Linked DNA regions of Homo sapiens. The protein of the gene in region 1 purifies or fractionates together with the protein of each later gene. This does not show direct contact. Each region holds a gene or a part of one and is shown on either strand. Other genes may lie near its edges.

What was found. Proteins that work in one complex are often made in the same cells at the same time.
Region 2: the proteins of SGK3 (region 1) and MRPL1 purify together in Homo sapiens (affinity purification with mass spectrometry, with the first as the bait; one large-scale study listed by BioGRID). This does not show direct contact.
Region 3: the proteins of SGK3 (region 1) and ERC1 purify together in Homo sapiens (affinity purification with mass spectrometry, with the first as the bait; one large-scale study listed by BioGRID). This does not show direct contact.
Region 4: the proteins of SGK3 (region 1) and NISCH purify together in Homo sapiens (affinity purification with mass spectrometry, with the first as the bait; one large-scale study listed by BioGRID). This does not show direct contact.

What each region holds. Positions count from the first base shown.
Region 1 is NC_000008.11:66,844,714-66,849,656, reverse strand, and holds part of SGK3 (serine/threonine-protein kinase Sgk3), read right to left. Parts: intron 2,465-4,943; coding exon 2,309-2,464; intron 1-2,308. Other genes in the region: C8orf44-SGK3 (serine/threonine-protein kinase Sgk3), read right to left, coding at 2,309-2,464.
Region 2 is NC_000004.12:77,949,260-77,954,158, reverse strand, and holds the end of MRPL1 (large ribosomal subunit protein uL1m precursor), read right to left. Parts: intron 4,363-4,899; coding exon 4,281-4,362; intron 1,736-4,280; exon of another isoform or gene 1,671-1,735; coding exon 1,552-1,670; 3' UTR 1,374-1,551; downstream 1-1,373.
Region 3 is NC_000012.12:1,025,153-1,030,095, reverse strand, and holds part of ERC1 (ELKS/Rab6-interacting/CAST family member 1), read right to left. Parts: intron 2,349-4,943; 5' UTR 2,193-2,348; coding exon 1,524-2,192; intron 1-1,523. UniProt on the Homo sapiens protein: Regulatory subunit of the IKK complex. Probably recruits IkappaBalpha/NFKBIA to the complex. May be involved in the organization of the cytomatrix at the nerve terminals active zone (CAZ) which regulates neurotransmitter release.
Region 4 is NC_000003.12:52,479,034-52,483,976, forward strand, and holds part of NISCH (nischarin), read left to right. Parts: intron 1-715; coding exon 716-829; intron 830-1,150; coding exon 1,151-1,262; coding exon of another isoform or gene 1,263-1,486; exon of another isoform or gene 1,487-1,845; coding exon of another isoform or gene 1,846-1,865; exon of another isoform or gene 1,866-3,724; coding exon of another isoform or gene 3,725-3,734; intron 3,735-4,943. UniProt on the Homo sapiens protein: Acts either as the functional imidazoline-1 receptor (I1R) candidate or as a membrane-associated mediator of the I1R signaling.

The sequences.
Region 1 (4,943 bases):
ACCACTGCACTCCAGCATCGGTGACAGAGCAAAACCCTGTCTCAAAAAAAAAAAAAAAAAAAATATTCCCCCAAAACATCACCCTGGCTACAGGGAGAATTAGATTGAAGAGTCAAGACCAGATAAGGGAAAAATAGCAACCACTGTAACCAGACTAAAGATGACAAAGAGTAGGACAAGAGTAGTAGCAGTGGGGCTAGAAATGTCTGGATATGGGAAAGATTCAGGCAGCAAAAAGGAACTGGCTGTTTGTTGAATATGGAAGTAAGGAAGAGAGAAGAATCAAGAATGCCTCTCAGATTTCTGGCCAGAATAGCCACATGGACAGTGATGTCCTTTAATACAAAAGGGAGCACAGGGGGACAATAGCGGCATCTGAGGTACTCTCAGGAACTCCAAGTGGTGATGTTGAGCAGGCAGATACTATGTAAGTCTAGAGTTTAGAAGAGAGGGCTGAAGAGTACAGAAGATATAAATGTGTGAGATGAAAACATATAGATAACTAAAGCCATGGGACCAATTGAGATTGCCCAGGAAGACAGCACGGAAGAAAAGAGGGTTTAGGACGACAGGGCACTGCAACACTTGAAGTTTGAAAAGGAGCTTACACAGGAAATAATGGAGAACGGTCCAGAAATACAGAAAGAAAAGCCTGAGATGAGACGCACGTGTGCTCTTGCAGAAGGCTAGGGAACAGGAGAGTGTTGCAAGTTTAAATGCTGCTGAGGGCGGCATAAGTTGAGGAAAAGTAGTATCCAGCAATTCTACTGGCTATTTTGTGGTAGATTGAGAAATGAAAGAGCTTGGGAAAGGGAGACTGAACAAAGAAAACTTCCAACAAGTTTGGCTAAGAAGGGAAGGAGATAGAGTAGTACCTCTCAGGAGAGTAAGACTGAGGGTTTTTTTGGCTTAAGAAGCAACAGATTTGATAACATTTAATTACTGACTGGAAGGAACCAGAAAAAAAGGGGAGCAGTTATTTGTGCAAAACAAACAAACATGGACAGGGTTCCTTACAAATGGACAGGATACAGTGCACAGGTGGAAACAGACCTTTTCCACTACAATACGAAGAAGAAAATGACAGGATCCTGCAAGTGTATATAGGTCTGTGGATTTGATAGCAGGAAGCTAAGTTAGCTCCACTCTAATGGTTCTATTTTCCTTACAAAATAGAAGGCAAGATCATCTGTTAAAAGTGAAGAAGAAGAAAAGGAATCTGGGAAGTCTGGAGAGAAGGTGTGAAATAGTTAATACAGAGAGGAAGAGAGTAAGCTACACAGAGAAACAAAGAGTATTACCAGACAGTGGGGAAGCACAGACGAGGTTCACAGTGCTTCCAATATGCCCAGTTTGTTACCTTCTTTAGCACTGTTCAGCAGCCCATGAGATGATAGTTGGATTCATCTAGAGCTGCAATCTCTGTCAATGAATTCAATAAATGGACCAAGGGACAAGGAGGTGTGAAATATTAGCAAGACTGTCTGGAACAACGGAAAGGAAGTTGTTGGCAGAGCTACCAGCTGAACTGGGGAGCAGGGGTAAAGCAGTAGCAGCAAAGTCTTTTATTCACAGCTCAAGTTCAAAATTGATAAGCAGCCTCCAAGAATATCTGAGAAAGCAGTTCAAAAGTTCATATTCCTCAATATTTTTGTGCATTTACTGACACACTAACATAATGCCGGTAACTACACTACAAATTTAATTACCCTTATTTGAAACAAACATGCAGATTCCCTAATTATCTCAAGGAGGTCTCACCAAATTCTTAAAAAAAAAAAAAAAAAAAAAAGTGACTTAGTGTTCAAGGCAAAAGACATTACCTCATGCAGACAGGAGGCACTTAACAAATTCCTGCTAAAGGAAATGATTTAGACTTTAGATAGTCCCAAACCCTCAACAAAAAGCTTACTAGTTGGTTAGTCTCTGTGTTATTAGTTCATGAAAATGTTAGTATTATTTAGCAATAAAAACAGCAAAAGAAAGTTTAGGTAGTGAAAATATGCCACACAACACTTTTTAAAAAGAAGGGGAGGGGAATTTGTAATAAATGAAAATCAAGTAAATAATAGGGTGCGAAAGTGTATGTGGTGGATAGGGCAAAAGTGTATGCAACAGAAAGTGCTTTAAATACTACATAGTTTTATATAAATACAGGTGAAAACTGTGGAGACAAGTATGCTTTTTTTCCATGTTGCTATTCTCCGCATATTGTATTCATTCCATTAAATACCATATAAAATAAAGCTTTATTTCCAAATTTTAAATAAGCTTAAATAAAGCTGGAGCTAGAAAAGCTGTTACATACAAAGTCTTCCTTGGCACCAAGTCGATTTTGCCTGTCTTTTTCTAGGAGTTCTTCCAGAATGGACCAGGCTGTAAGACTCACTCCTGGCCTCAAACTTAGGGGTTTGTGAAGGATATTGTCATACATTTCAGCAACATCTCGGCAATAAAAAGGAGGCTGGAAAAAAAAAAAAGCAAAATAAACTTAGTGGTAAACAAATTATGCGCAAATGGGGTTAAAATGGCTTTAATCTTGAGGGAGCAGTCAGTTGAAAAAATGTATGGACCTCTTGGGACGTGTAGACACCTGCAGTGTGGCTTCCTGAAGCAAAGAGATTCTAAAACCGAACACATCACAGAGCTTAATAAGTGTTCACTGAATGAATTAGGGCCAGTTTGTTCAATAGCACCTTGTAGACAGCTGTTAAATTATATACAACTTGTAGTAGTACCTGTTTTAGAGAAAACCACCAACCTTATCATAGGCATAATGACAGAATCATTGGAAATAGAAGTTCAAGACAGATCAAACATTAATTTCAGACTTGGGAATAAACTCACTGAAACAAAGGGATTTCTAGTAGAGATGGAGGCCTGAAGATAATGTTTCTTAGGTACTTATGACAGAGATAATATTATGACTGTACTTTGCAGAATTAAAAATGCCACCGCAACAGCCAAAAGACTTGGGGTATAGCTTCAACACAAGCATTAGCTAGTTAATCATCTAATTATAAAGGTTTAAAGTAAAAATAAAGACCAGGCGTGGTGGCTCACGCCTGTAATCCCAGCACTTTGGGGGGCTGAGGTGGGCAGATTGCTTGAGGCCAGGAGTTCAAGACCAGCCTGGGCAACATGGTGAAACCGTCTCTACTGAAAAAATAAAAAACCAGCTGGGCATGGTGGTGTACGCCAGTAGTCTCATCTACTCAGGAGACTGAGGCATGAGAATCGGTTAAACCTGGGAGGCGGAGGATGCAGTGAGCTGAGATTGCGCCACTGCACTCCAGCCTGGGCAACAGAGTGAGACCCCATCTCAAATAAATAAAGTAACAACTTTTGAGAAAAAAAATGAGCTGTACAGGTTTCTGTACTCTGGGAATAAGAGGAAAGAAGATTATCATGCTACTCAGGTTCTATCTGCAAGGTTGTAATATGTAACCTACAAAACTACTTCCTTTTGAATTAATGTGTCCAGAGCACCAGAAACATTTTTCCAAAGAGGGAATTACCATGTAAAATGTTACTGTTCTTTTTTAAAAAACAAAAACAAAAACAAAAAAAAACCCAATTTATTCACCAGAGGACTGGTCTCTAATATTTTACCCTTGTGGGTTTGTTTTTACCTTTTAAATATTAGTTACCAGTATTTTTATAAAATAAGATGAATCTGACTTAAAACATTAAAATGACATTTTTTTCTTTTCAGTCTCTTTTTGTGAAAATTACAAAAGTAATATATGCTTGTTGTAACAAATCCAAACAATACAGAAGTTTACAAAATAAAAAGTGACGCCAGGCACAGTGGCTCACACTGGAAATCCCAGCACTTCGGGAGGCTGAGGTGGGCAGATCACTAGAGCTCAGGAGTTTGAGACCAGCCTAGGCAACATGGCGACACCCTGTCTCTACTATAAATAAATAAATAAATAAATAAATAAATAAATAAATAAATAAGCAAGCTAGGTGGGGTGGTGCATGCCTGTAGTCCAAGCTACTCAGCAGGCTGAGGTGGGAGAAGCATCAGAGCCTGGGAAGTCAAGGTTGCAGTGAGTCGTGATCATTCTACTACACTCCAGCCTGAGCAACACAGTGAGACTCTGTCTCAAAAAAAGTAAAAATAAAAATTAAAGTATACATAATTTTTAAAGTTAAGGGAGTTTTATAGGCTTGCCACTTTTCCTTTCCTTTGTGTAGGAAAGAAAAAGCTTATCTTTTAAAATATGACTTTTTTTGTTTTTTGTTTTTTTTTGAGACGGAGTCTCGCTTTGTTGCCTATGCTGGAGTGCAGTGGCATGATCTCCACTCACTGTAACCTCCGCCTCCCAGGTTCAAGTGATTCTCCTGACTCAGCCTCCCAAGTATCTGGGATTACAGGGGCATGCCACTGTGCCAGGCTAGTTTTTGTATTTTTAGTAGAGACGAGGTTTTGCCATGTTGGACAGGCTGGTCTTGAACTCCTGACCTAAGGTGATCTGCCTGCCTTGGCCTCCCAAAGTGCTGGGATTACAGGCGTGAGCCACTGTGGCTGGCCAAAATAAAACTTCATTTTAAAACAATAAAAGTTTGATTAATAAAATGTATGTTTTAAATGTTCTCTTTTGAATCAACTGCATTTTATGTGCAATGATATATTTTCAAAGTCCTCTAAATAAATTTGAAGGATTCTGAAATATCAAGATGGCAAATAAATAGTGCTTAAAGGGAAATCAGGTATAAAGTGGTTTTCCAATGTTCTAAGTCAGTAGCATAACCAGAAAACTAGATCTTTTAACATGCAGGTCACAGTCAAGGGCAAAGAAGAGATGGTGTTGGCTTTCACAGGAATCTATCATTCGAAACTAGCAAGATAAAACAAACGCTCTGAAATGTACTTCATGTGCTGAATTTCACTGTAAGCGCCACAGTTTTCAATAAAAAGCAAATAGACACTCAGC
Region 2 (4,899 bases), on another chromosome or scaffold:
ACTATGCATTTATCACTAACCCACACTAGAGTTAATTGTTATGTCTGAATTCTCTTTAATGGTTTCTCCTTCTGCTTGTTTCTATGAGGCTGGGAGGGTTGAACTGTATAACATCCCACATTCTGAACTGGCCTAATTATTCCCACTTGAGGTCAGTTGATTTGTCCCGCCATCTCCTATATCTTCTGTAAACTGAGATGTAGGTCTATAAGCTTGATTAGATTTAAGCAGAACAGCCTTGGGAAGAATAAATACTTCATTGGTAGTGATGAACTTCATCTTGAAACATGTCTATTCCTTGGCCAAGTTGAGTGTGCAGATTCTGTGTGCTCTAGGCAGATTTATGGTTCCCAAATAGATCAATGCAAAATGAATCAAAATAATTCGTGTTATTAGAAATCCAATTGTTTTAAAATCATACATTTTGGATTGTGAGAATTGTGTTACCCAGCTCTTCTTCAAAAAAGATTTTACCTTGAAAAGCTAGAGCTGGCAAGTCAACACCAAAACTAAAATAAAATGAGGTGCATTAATGAAACAAAACAAAAAACAAAGTAGGTATTTAAACCCCACCAACAAAGTCACCATCACTATTATTTCATAAAAGAAAACTCATTCGAATAATCCCTAAAAAAGTGGAAGATACTTCAAGTAATCATTCCCAAGAAAGGACAGCTGGCAACTGCATGCCAAAAATTATCCTTATTTTTTTCACTTTGTCATATATCAGTAAGCACTTAAGGATTAACATCGGTCTGCAAACTGGTACTTGATGCAAGGTGCTTTACTTCTTGGCCTGATTTTTAATCCATGAATGAAGTTGTTCTAGCTACTTCATGGGAATGTTCATTCGATAAACACTAACCAAACACTTGTTATACTATTAAGCAGAGAAATTCAGGAGCAAATGAGGTCACGTATATGAAAACACTGCATACAGTGCCTTGTAGACTACAAAGCATCATAAAAATATGTGGTATTATTACAAATGTATATATTACATATATAATTATATAATAATATATATTACATATACATATTATATATATAATTACAAACTGATTCCTAAAAAGAGATTACCCAACATACGGTTTAGTGACTTAGTAATTTTCTATATTCATGCTATCACAAATAGTATTCAGAATACTTTAGAATGCTTATTTTCTTTTTTTTTTTAAAAGAAAATAGCTATATTTGTGATGTAGCTCATGATTCTGCCATTTTCTGCTTTATGGGAACTGAGGATGTTACTATTCCCTCAGATGGTTATGACTCCCAAGGGAAAGTTATTAAGCCAGAAACTGCTGCTATAATTACCAGTACGTAGACTCTGGATTCTAAAAAAGAAAATGTCACAGGGTCTAAAAGGCAGGTTCAGACAAAGAGAAAATTTTATTTTCTTATTCTTGAAATGACTGTACGATTTTTCAATGTTAAAGTTCACTTTCAAGTATGATCAATAACAAGACATCAAATGTAAAAATTATGCTGTATTATCATTTTCTCCATTGCTTCTTAAACCACTGAAAGTAATTTCACAATTCACCACATTTAGGCATCTTCTTTTTCACTTTCTTCATTTTTTACTTCTTTAGGCAACAATGGATCAATCTTCAGTAATAAACCTTCACTTGTTGAACTACGAAGGAAAGCACGTACCACAAAGGGACCTGGAAACAAAAACGAGAATCAACTTTGATTTTTATATCGCAATACCACCTCATGAGCAAATAAAGTAGGTCCTCACTTAATATTGTCACTAGGTTCTTGGAAACTGCAACTTTAAGCAAAACAACTTATAAAGAAACCAATTGTACCGTAGGCTAATTAATAAGAGTTAAGTTTCTCAGGCATATTTCTAGTCACAAAAATATCACCAAGCTTCTAAATAAAGAGCTCAAACACTTCTAATATTAACCATTGAAATAAATTTGAACTATAAATACATTTAAGATTAATAAAAGCAATAATTATTTACCCAACTGTGGGTGAATCAGAGTGACAGGAGTCATAGTGGTGGTGACTTAAATCAAAGACTAAGTGTTTGCAAAGTGAAAACTGTAAGAAGCGCCTTCTGCCACCGTGCAGTTCAAAAACAAACTAACAAATATGGTTGCCTCACTGAGTGCTTTCATACCACATCATTTATTGTCCTGCATTTGTATGATTATCATATACTTTGCCCATTTTTATTTTACAATAGTTTGTATTCATTAATTCATCTTCCAACTCCCTTATTCCAGTCCAGGGTTGTGGGAGGCCAAAGCCTATCCTGGCAGGTCAGAGCATAGGTGGGAATGATCTCCGGATAAGCAGCATCTCATTGCAGGGCACACGTACACAACCCACACACTAACTCACACCGGGATCATGCAGACATACCAATTAACCTAACATGCCACCTTTGGGATGCGGGAGGAAACCGAAGTACCCAGAGAATCCATGCAGACATGAGGAGAACATGCAAATTCCACACAGACAGTGGCTCTGGCCAGGAATCTATTTTTTTCTTATCAATGTTATAATAAAATAACATTGAACAAAAGGATGTTATTCAAGGACCTGCTGTACAAATATACAACAGGAAAACTTATAGAACTCATGTCATATTTTCAGTGAAAAGTACTGTATTACTGAACTAATATTTTGAATTATAAGAAGGGGAAGATAGTTTCATTTCTAGAATAGAAGACAAACTAGTTGTACTCTAGAATATTAGAGATTTATCCTTCAAACTACACACACTCACTAATAATTCATTTCTCTCTTCCAGAAGATGATCACCTAGAATTTATTTTATTGCAAAGGCAACAGTGAAGGGAGCAGGTGGTGATATTTACATTTGATGGAAATGTTATAAATATTTATTTAAAACAGTCAGCACAGATGCTACCTTTGTGTTACCACACAGTTGGTAAAATTCCCTAAAAACTAAAATGCTTTTCATAAGAACAACGTTAAGTGGCTTCATTTAAAATAGCAAAAAGACAGCCGGACACCGTGGCTCACACCTGTAATCCCAGTACTTTGGGAGGCCAAGGTAGGTGGATCACCTGAGGTCAGGAGTTCGAGACCAGCCTGGCCAACATGGTGAAACCCCACCGCTACTAAAAATACAAAAATTAGCTGGCATGGTGGCAGGTGCCTGTAATCCCAGCTACTTGGGAGGCTGAGGCAGAAGAATTGCTTGAACCCGGGAGGCGGAGGTTGCAGTGAGCTGACATCAAACCACTGCACTCCAGCCTGGGTGACAGAGTGAGACTCCGTCTCAAAAACTAAAATAAAATGGCAAAAAGAGAATCACAACATTTAAACATGCTAAGGGGCTTCATATGAAATAGCAAAAAGAGAATAACAACATTTTGAGGATTTACTGTCCATCATCTACTCCTACTATTGTCTCAAGAGGATCCTGTACTGAAATCAAAGTTATCTGTGGACTCTAAGAATCCATACACATCCAATTACTTAGTAGTATGGCCATATTTAGGGCAAGAAAATTAACAAGGGTGGTATTTATTCACCAGTATGGTTAACTCCCAAAGAAGGTAAAAAATAGCTTAAGATTGTGTTTTAATTATAAACTTGGTTATAAAACTAAACCTGACAAATTCTTATCATGGTAAGCCTACAAATGAGTAGTCAATTGAGTATAATGGACCCTTGCTTGGCTTCAAGCAGCCACAAGTGAAATTTGTCTGAGGAAGGAATTTGAACAGCACACAACGCAATGATAAAGAAACTGGATGCCTGTGTTCTAGCCTACTACACAGCTTCCACATCTCAATTGAGTTGAGTGATTCTCTATGAGTCACCTCATTTATAAATGACTCTCATGACATAATAAAATGATCTTCTTTCTGTCCTGTAATAAATAAATAAGATTAAGAAAACTAATTGCTAGTGCCAATGACAAAGTGAATGATCTGGTTTCAAAATATCATTTTAGAAATAATTTTAGTCCCTAACATCATTGTAAGTTTAAAGCAATCAGTTACAGTTTTCTTTCAAACTTTGCTACATCTATTATTAGTAATAATGTGGGAATCTACAAAGGTTTCAGGATGCATTCCTTATTAATGCTAGAGAAATCCTTTGGAGAATTAAATTTTATTTATTTAATCCCTGGAAATATAAAACTTGCATGTTAACTTGATTTTTTATTTAATATTTTACATTTTGCTATTATACTTGCATGTTAATTTGACTTTTTTCTTCATATTTTACATTTTAAAGTTTCACAGGGTCATAGGGAAGTCTACCCTCAGCAAACCACTTACCCAAATTCAGCGGTCTGTGCCTACAAACTTCATTAATAACTGCTTGCAGATTGGCAGCTATCTGGTCACTTGACATATCCAACTGAAAGAAAATAATATACATAACATTAATGATGAGAAAGCAAGAAGATAATAAATTATTCTAGACTATTTTTCAAATAGTCAACCAATGCAAATTATCTAGTAAATGACCCTACTGTGAAAGGGGAAAACCTCTATAGCTCTTTGTTTCGAATGCCACATTTACATGTCTTCACATGTCAAGATTTAATAGATTTATAGAACATATTATAGCAAACTGAAGTTGAAGTTTTTCCACTTGAGAATCCTTGACTTCCAAGTAATTTCCCTAAAGCATATCTTGGAGCAGAATACATCATTCCCTACACGCACCCCCCAAGAAAACAGTGACATTTTCTCATGAAGTTTGTTGATTTAAAGGAAACTAAGAAAATGTCTAGAAATTAATGTTTTCTTGAGTCCAAAATAAAACTGCTTGCTACATGCATTCAGATAATACATATCTCACACAGAGACAATTTCAGGATGTTGTGCTAACATTCTAATTTTTCAAACACTATGCAATAACAATTATCTTGTCATTTAGCAGTAAGTAAAT
Region 3 (4,943 bases), on another chromosome or scaffold:
AAAAATGTGAAAAGAGAAAAATTCTAAAAGTCTTTTAAACAAAAAGTATGGGCCTGGCGGTGGCTCGCGCCTATAATCCCAGCACTTCGGGAGGCCAAGGCAGGTGGACCACCTGAGGTCAGGAGTTTGAGACCAGCCTGGCCAACACGGTGAAACCCCGTCTCTACTAAAAATACAAATATTAGCCAGGCGTGGTGGCGGGCACCTGTAATCCCAGCTACTCAGGAGGCTGAGACAGGAGAATCACTTGAACCTGGGAGGTGGAGGTTGCAGCGAACTGAGATTGCGTCACTGTACTTCAGCCTGGGAGACAGAGCAAGACTCCGTCTCAAAAAAAAAAAAAAAAAAAAAGTATGTTTAACATTTTAACTAGTAGAGCCTGAATATGATTTGTTCACATCTTTGGAGTCATCAGCTTCCTCACTGAATGTGGCATGGCTATCATCAAACATCAACTATAACCTGGAGGAGCACAGAAAAATAAGTGAATATTTCCTGTAGCTAATGTGACAGCACTTAGCTCTCAAATTGCAAAGCCCATAATTATAATGCCCAGTCATCTCATTTATTTTCTACAAGTAAACAATCACACCAAGTTGCCTTTCCTCCACCTTAAATGTAAAGAATTACAGAACGAAAAGCTACAAAAGCATCCTGAAGTTAAACTTCCATGAATGGCAACAAAAAGAACAGGTACTTATTGTTTGTACTTAATAAATACATCATCAACATTAACTTTTTTTTCTTTTTTGAGACAGAGTCTCACTCCAGACTGGAGTGCAGTGGCGGGATCTCAGCTCACTGCAACCTCCGCCTCCCAGGTTTACGTGATTCTCCTGCCTCAGCCTCCTTAGAAGCTGGGATTACAGGCACACGCCATCACACCTGGCTAATTTTTGTATTTTTAGTAGAGTCAGGGTTTCACCACGTCGCCAGGCTGGTCTCGAACTCCTGACCTCAATGATCCGCCCACCTCGGCCTCCCAAGTGCTGGGATTACAGGTGTGAGCCATTGCACCCGGCCAACATTAACTTTTTAAAAGTAATTTCTGTTCTCAGCTGACAACACTGACTTATCCTGTGATAGTCATTTTGTTTTGTTTTTAAGAATGACTTTTTGACATTATGACAAATCTTAATGGTATACCTTACATTTAAGTTACCTACTCTAAAATACATTTGGTAATAGATATTAGAGAGTGTGGCAAAATTATACTCTCAGAAGAATTGGAAAAAAAAAAAAAAGATAACATATGCTGAAAGGAAAGACACGAAGAGAAAGAGAAACCAGAGAAAAGAACCAAGCAAGAATGGGAGCAAGGAGACATGGGCAGCTAGAAGAAAACAGGGTACAGGACCAAATTTGGAAAGGGCTGAGAAATGGAGGACACAAAACAGTAAAATCAATAGGAAAAAGGAAGATACATATACTACGAAGGGAAAAATCTAGGAAAGGGGAAAAAAAGGCTATTTCATTTATATACATGAATTCAGCCAATAAAGGTAAACACACGTAGAACTTACCTGGTTTTCCTCCTGTACAACTCTGTACTGTTCCTTCCAAATGGTGATTTTGGAAGCTTCATCTTTTCTCAGGGCTCGTTCCTTCTTCAGCTCTGGGCTCCAGAAGGTCTTGATGCTATTCATTGAAGAACTCAATTTGCTCTCCTTTACTTCCACATCCTTCCGCAAGAGATCATTTTCTCTTAATACTTCCTTCAGCTGTGTCTGCAGATCCATGATTGTGTTATCTCTCGCCTGACGAAGGGAGTGAGGTACAGTGGATGCCATACTCACAGGAGGGAGGTGATGCTCTCCAAATGCTATGGTGTCACTAGCAACCCCACTGCTAGCTATATTGGGGCTACTACCCATAGCAGTCATCCGAACACCGTAAGGCAGACGTCCCCCAGAACGGCCAAGTGTCATGGTGCTTTTAGGTGTTTCTGAACCCACATTTTCATGGTCACTTAGATACATAGGGCCAGAGGTGGCATAGGCAGCATTTAAAGATTGTATATTTTCCATTGAAAGGGTTTTCCCACTGCCACCTCCAACACTGCTTCCCGAACTCCCTCCCGTACTGTTGGTTCGACGGTGACCCAAGCGAGGGGAACGTGGAAGCCTGGGTGAACGCCCAGGGCTCTGGCTGCTCGGCTCCACCTTCCCAACAGAGCGGGCACTTCCATACATGGTTGCAAGGTCAGGAAAGGTGTGAGCAGAAAATCAACAACAACAACAACAAAAATGGGAACCTTGTGAGGTGTCTCTATGGCTACAAGTTGGTTTAAGGTTAATCAGAAGAAGGTCCCCAGCTGTCCAATCTTGAAGAAGTATCTTACACCATATCTGTAATGAAAAGATCACACATTAAATCCTCCAATAATAAATATTTCCCTTCTCAGAGACTTTCCATTACCCCCACTTAAAGAAGATCTAGCCCTTCTACCATGTATGTACTCACGCATTCAGAATGTGATTACAGCATAATGTACTCATAGTAAACAATATTTTAGAGATATTTTAGATGTCTCAAAACTGAACGCTGAAAACATACCATGCAACTGGAAAACAAACAAAAAAAGTGCCAAGTGCAATGGCTCATGCCTATAATCCCAGCGCTCTGGGAGGCCAAGGTAGGAAGATCGCTTGAGGCCAGGAGTTCAAGACCAACCTGGGATACATAGCAAGACCCTGTCTACAAAAAAGAAAAAGAAAAAAAAACAAGAAGTATAAAGATTGACAAGGAAAAGATTAAACTCAATGTCTGAATATCTGACTTGCTAACTGAAAACCCAAGATAATCAACTGACAAGTTATTAGAATAACAGAACTCAACAAACTGGTCAAACTCAATATCAATATATAAGTATCAATGTATACATCAGTAGTAACAACTAGAAAATGCAGTTTTTAATTTAAAGGAAATTTTAAATCCCATTCACAACAGCAACAAAACCATAAAAGTACTTTGATGTAAATCAACAGAAATGTGCAAGAATTTTGGGGGAAAAAAACTATAACATTTTACTGAAAGACATGAAAGAACACCTAAACAAAGTTATCTGTGTTCATGGATGAGAAGACAAACACTGCTAAGATTTAGTTCTTCCCCAACTACTTAGCACAATCCCAGTGAAAAATCTCTACAGGATTTTGCTAACCAGCTATAGATCCCTTCCTTTCACAGGTGTTGAAGGATTTTTCAAGTAACTCAACAAGCTGACTCTAAAATTCAAATGGAGAGTAAAGATACAAGAGTAACCAAACAATTTAAAATAGATGAACAAGGAAGGAAGACAGCCCTCAACAGCAACATAAATTACAAATCCATAATTCTTCATTTGTACTGCAAAAATCCAAAAACCTCTGAAAATAAGATTTTCCTTTTAACTCATCTAGCAGCAAACCTTGACCTGATCTGAGCTTACTTACTGTTTATATGTATCCCACATAGTGTGACTTCATATATTTCATTAAGAAAACAATGTGTGTGATTACTGGATACTACATAATGTCCACTAAGTATTACTGGAAAAAATTCCTGACAACAAAACCACATCTGACCTGCAAGGTTTCTTACAAAGTATTGTAGCCTTGTAAAACTATAATAACGAAAACTGTATAGTACTAGCCCAAGAACAGGGTCTAAATTATATATGGGAATTTAATATATGTTAAAAGTAACGTTTCCAAACAGTGAGTGATATGGTTTGGCTGTGTCCCCACTCAAATCTCACCTTGAATTGCAATCATCTTCATGTATCAAGGGTGGGGCCAGGTGTACTTAACTGAATCATGGGCGCAGTTTCCCCTCTACTGTTCTGGTGGTAGTGAGTGCGTCTCATGGGATCTGATAGTTTTATAAATTGGAGTTCCCCTGCACAAGTTCTCTTGCCTGTCGCCATGTAAGACATAATTTTGCTCCTCATTCGCCTTCTGCCATGATTGTGAGGTCTCCCCAGCCATGTGGAACTGAGAGTCCATTAAACCTCTTTCCTGGCAGGGTGCAGTGGCTTACATCTGTAATTCCAGCAATTTGGGAGACCAAGGCGGGTGGATCACCTGACATCAAGAGTTCGAGACCAGCCTGACCAACACGGCAAAACCCAATCTCACTAAAAGTACAAAAATTAACCAAGCATGGTGGCAGGTGCCTGTAATCCCAGCCACTCAGGAGGCTGAGGCATAAGAAGCTTGAACCCAGGCGGCAGACATTGCAGTGAGCCGAGATCGCGCCACTGCACTCCAGCCTGGGTGACAAGAGCGAGACTCCGTCTCAAAAAAAAAAAAAAAAAAAAACTTTCCTTTTTAAATTACCTAGTCTCGGGTATGTCTGTATTAGCAACATGAGAACAGACTAATACAGTGAGGAAATGAAAAATCACTCAATAAATGAAGTTTAAATACTTGTTGCTCTTTGAGAAACATAACGTATACTCGTCTTCACATAGTACACCAAAATAAATTCCATATACATTAAAGATATAAATTTTTTAAGCCATTAAAAGTACTAGAAGAAAATTTTGAAGAATATCCTTGTGAACTTGAGTTAGGAAAAGGCTTCTTAAATAAAAAACCAGAAGCAAAAACCATAAAGAAAAACAACCAACACACTTAATTATGTCAAAATGACAAAGTATTATACCAAAAAATGCTGTAAATAAAATTAAAAGATAAACCAAAAGCTAGGTGAAAAATACAGTGAACATAAGTATAATGATCTGTAAACAGAGTATGTAAAGAATTCCTACACGGGAAATGCCAATTTTGAAACAGCGATAATTAGAGGGAAGGAAACTTGTGTTATAAAGGGGAAAAATGTTTGTGGAGGCTTTAGCTCAACTTAGAAAGCTTTACACTCAAACTACCATAAAGCACCTGAATTTTTTTTTCAAAAAAGAAAACATGTTCATACTCTACAAGTATAACTAAAACAAATTT
Region 4 (4,943 bases), on another chromosome or scaffold:
ACCTTCTGTTCTCCCAAAATCCCAGGTCAGAAAATACCTGGAAGTCTATTTGTGTCCCACCTCCCTCTTTGTGGCCGCAAGTGCCCCTTCCTCCACACAGTCACAAGACCATGAGATGCCATCTCCTCCCCTCCTGGGCTGCAGACTTTGGGAAGCTCCCAGGCCACAGAGTGTCAGCTCCTGTCCAGGCCCTTGGGACCTTCCCTCATTCAACCACCCTACCCAACCCCCCACTGCCTGCCAGCCACCACTCCCTCCCACATTTGCAGGCGGGGGCCCTGCCCTCTCCTGCCGCTGGTTCCCCTACCCAGGAGGCTCTCCCATCGCTCTTTTGAGAGTCTGCCTCCCACCTCTAACTGGGGGCTTAGTTCAAGTTGCCCCCTTACCCTAGTCCCAGCTGCCCAAGAGCTTGCTGCCTCCTGTTCTTGGTGAGGGACTCCAGAGACAGATGTGAGACCTCCCTGGACCCCTCCAAGGCATTCCCAGGTCACTTCCATGAGTAGTGAAGAGCCGCCTCTGAGCAGGCTGAGCCTCCCTCAGCCTATGGTGTCCTCACGTGGCCTGGCCCACAGCAGGTGCTCACGCCTCCTCCTCAGCAGAGCCCTACCATCCTCCTGCCATGCTCACCAGTCCCCATGCTGATAGCCATCACCAGTCCCCATGCTGATAGCCATCACCAGTCCCCATGCTGATAGCCACTTTCTGGATGCTCTAGGTCTGTCTGGATGACACAGTGACCACAGAGAAGGAGCTGGACACTGTGGAAGTGCTGAAAGCAATTCAGAAAGCCAAGGAGGTCAAGTCCAAACTGAGCAACCCAGAGAAGAAGGTGGGTTTGTGTGGCAGGTGGGAGGGCAGTGGTGCAGAGCCAGCCGGGATAGGAGCCAGTTTGGGGGGCTTGGGCCATGGGACTGCTCAGGGCTGCCGAGTCCCAGCTGCGCCCCTCCCTGGCTGCATGACCTCGGGCAAGTCGCGGCCTCTCTGTTCTCTGTGGGGTGGGGACAGTGGTAGTTCCTGCTCTAAGGATATGATGAGACCATCTTTACCACCCAGTTGGTGGGAACCGTTGCGCTCCCTCCTCACACCCCTGGCCTTGGGGAGCTCTGTGCTTCCTCTTCTCTCCCGGGCTGACTCAAGCACTCGTCCTCAGGGTGGTGAAGACTCCCGGCTCTCAGCTGCCCCCTGCATCAGACCCAGCAGCTCCCCTCCCACTGTGGCTCCCGCATCTGCCTCCCTGCCCCAGCCCATCCTCTCTAACCAAGGTAATCGTGTATGTATCTTGCTTCTAGTGGAGCCACACAGCCCTGCCTGGGCCCCCTGGCTGGGCTGGGGTTGGGGGAGAGGTGCCAGCACCTGCTTCCAACAGGGTCAGACACAGGGAGGGCAGTGCCTTCTGCAGGCTGGTCCTCGCGGGGGGACACATGGCAGGGGTGCCTGGCCTGATGCCAGCTGTTGCTTGCTTGGTGAGGACTCCCAATTGCTCTGATGCCCACATCCAGCTCCTCTAGGAGACCGCAGGGTGTCTGACAGGCCCTGAGGCTGCCCTCTGAACAGGCTCGGGGCTGTTGGCTCATGGGACCCATTCCCTCACCGGCAGCACAAGCAGGTTGGCTCCTGGTTACAGGAAGCCGGGCTTGTGACTTTACTGTCTGGAGCCCGAATCCCTGTGCAGGGAAAAGCTTGCTTTTATCACTGCCTCATCTCTGTGGGGTGACCCAGCCCCAGAACACCATGTTTGTGGGGCCAAGATGGGCCATCTCTGTCCCTGTGGACCCATGGAAGACCAGGCCCATTCGTCTGCCCACTATCTTAGCGTTTTCAAAGGGCTTTCACCTCTGAACCCAGGCATCCTCGGAGATGAGTGAGTGAAGCAGGTCTCATGAGCGTGTCTGCTGGCCCGGCCCCCACGGAAGAGGGGAGGGTGTGCCGTCCCGAGTGGAGCCGAGGCTCGGGACACGCAGGAAAGGACGCCGCCTGCCCGGGCTCCTGGAGACGCAGAACTTGGTGTGAGGTCTTGGGAAAACAGTTCAACCCGATGTTTTAAGAGCCAGAAAAACATTCCCACCCCTTGACCTGGTAACCCCACTGGTGGGGATTTTCTCTTAGAGGGATAAGATACCGGGAAGGGGAGGTGAAATGCTCACCACTGCCAAAACACGGGCTGCAACTGCAACATCGGAGGATGAGAGGGAGAGTCGGCTGTGGTGCAGAATGCTCAGCAGCCCTCCCAGCAGGGACAGGAAGACTGGGCAGGAAGAGGGGAGAAGCATTCAAGTTAAGGCAAAAGGCCCAACGCAGAGCAGCACACTGAGGTCACACCTGTGAGATGTGGAAGAGAATTCCTGAGCGTGGAGCGATGGGGTTAGGTGCCAGGATGATTGCCCATTTTGCTTCTGTCAGACTCTTGACTAAGGATTTCTGGTTGCATTTTATTACATAAAAGCCAGGGAGGTTATATCACGGTGAGAAAGCTTCCCTGACGCTGCCTCCTGTAGCGCAGCCAAGCGAGCCTGTGGAGGTACCATATGACTGTAGGCCTCTGGGGACAGGGAGCTGCATCTGCTTCTCAAGGCCAGGGACACAGCCATTTCTGCCAGCATCTGTTGATCAGTGAGTGAGTGAGTGGGCAGGTAGAGCAGGAGCCAGTGAAGAGCAGGCCCTGGATGGGTGGGGATGCACCATGTCCCCAGGCTGCAGCTGCAGGCAGCCCCCCACATTGTCGGAGAAGCCTCTGCACCAGCTCAGCCCCCTCCTCACTCCCCTTGTGCCCTGGGGACACTCTGCAGAGGGGCACTCTGCAGTCTGTCCCCGCCATCGCTGGACTTCTGGACATGGCCTCCAGATTTGCACCTCTTAAATAAAACTGCAGTGGATGTCTTTGTGTGCACCTCTCTTTCCTTTTGGTGAGAAACAGCAAAGATCGGACCCCTAAGGACTCTCCTGATGTCTCCGCTCTATCCGCTGAGTGCCCTTTCTGACCACTTGTTTGTACAGGCCACGGTCCAGGACGGGAGCAGATAGACTGTCCCTGTCCCTGTCCACATTTCCTTGGTCCAAACAGGGCTTGTGGGAGGTAGTGGCAAAAGGTGTTGGTCTTTTTCTCACTGATTTGGAGGCCTCCCCGTGTGTTTTTTCAGCCGCGTGTTCCTGGGTCTTGCCTGGATGGACAGGGTTTTTTAGCGCGTGGGAGCAGCTTTGCTGACCCATGCCTGTTGCTTCCAGCCTGATTCCCGAGAAGGGAGCCTGCTTGCGAAGGAACTGGCACTCGGGCCTGCCTGAAGGGGGCGCTGTCCAGACAACACCCAGCCTCCCGTCGTGGCAGGCGCTGTCGGAGCCATGGATGATTGTGACCAATAGGGGTGGTCGCCAGAGTTGATTGTCCAGCCAGGCCCAGGGGCTGAGAGGAGGCTGTGTGGAGAGGTGGTTAGGAGCCAGGGCTCGGTCAGCTGAGTTCGCATGCCAGCTTCCTAGCTGTGGGACCTCAAGCAACTTGTAGCCCCTCTGAAGCTGTTTTCTCAACTGTGAAGTGGACGCACCCTACTTCATTGATTCTAAGAGGCACGCATTTCCACCTTGTGACTTCTCTGAAACTGAGGTGCGTCTTTCAGTCAGTGGCGTCTCATAGTCGCTGTCAGCCAGCTGGTATTCGAGATGGAGTCGTGGAAAACCCGTGGACACCTTCCGCTAGGACCAAGATGGCGCCACCTGCCGCATCTTAGATTTGATGAAATGTGGTAAATAACGAGAGGCATGCATGAGCGAATGCTGGGGAGGCGCTTGGCACTACCCAGAGCTCCACAGAGGTGGTCGATGAGGGCTGCCCTTTCCCACATCCTTAGTAGGGGGTTCAAGATGACCCAGACTGTGCCCCTGGGGAGCTTGGAGCCATGCGGGAGGATGAGCCATGTGCTGGAGGAGAACAGGGTAGGATGGTGTGGGGCTTTTGTAGACTGTCTAGAGCAGAGAAGGTCTGCAGTGGAGGTGGTGTCTGAGGTGAATCTCGAAGGTGAATAGGAGTTGAACGTTAGCAGGCAGAGGGTGGATTGCAGGAGAGCAGCGGCCTGGGCAGGTGCCCAGCGTGGCCCATCAGGGTGCTTCATGCATGGCTGTGTGCTTGCCATCCTTCCTGCCTGCCTACCCCCTGCTGCTTCGCTTCGTGGGGGCGTTTGAGCTTGGGCCCACCTGCCTGCCTCGCTTGTGGGCAGAGGACCCAGGCTGTGTGAGTTGTCCTGTCCCGGGGAGCAGCTGAGCTGGTCGGGGGTCTCGACCTGTGGGGCTCAGAGGACTCGGGGTCATTTCACTGGGCTGTGGCGATGCTGGGCTGTGGAGGTAGGCCTAGGGCTCCTGTAGGCCTCAGTGAGACTGGCGGCCGATGCCCAGTGTTCACCCTGCTGGCGGCAGTCAGGAACATGTTCACAAAGGCTTTACCTTCAAGTGGTCTAGAGGTGATCTGAGGTGGAGTAACAGGTCCAGATAGGCTACGTTCATAAAACAGCTTCAGCGGGGTTTAGGAACACTGTGCATTTACGGGACGCAGTGGGTCAGAGTGCTGCTGTCCGTGGGAGGTGGCCCCAGGGCAGGTCAGTGGGCACGTCCTGTGGTAAGTGGGACTGTGGATGTGGGCTCAGGCTGGACTCAGCAGCCCTGCTGGATACCAAGGCCTGCAAGGGCTGGCCCCCTGGTGAATTGTCCCGTGCCCTGTGTATCTATGAGTCCTGCAGAGATGACAAATCAGGGGACGGGGTCATGTCTAGTCACCGTCTGGGAAAATGCTCCAGGAGTGAACACATTTCAGGCTCTTGATGGATGTACCTCCAAACTCTTCTCTGGATGGGTGGGCCAGCTTGCATGCCTGTGCCGGCCTCTGCCCAGCGAGGTCAGGGCCAGGCCACACAGTCAGTCTGACTTTGGCAGAAGTTGAGAGGCAACACTTGTCTCTTGTT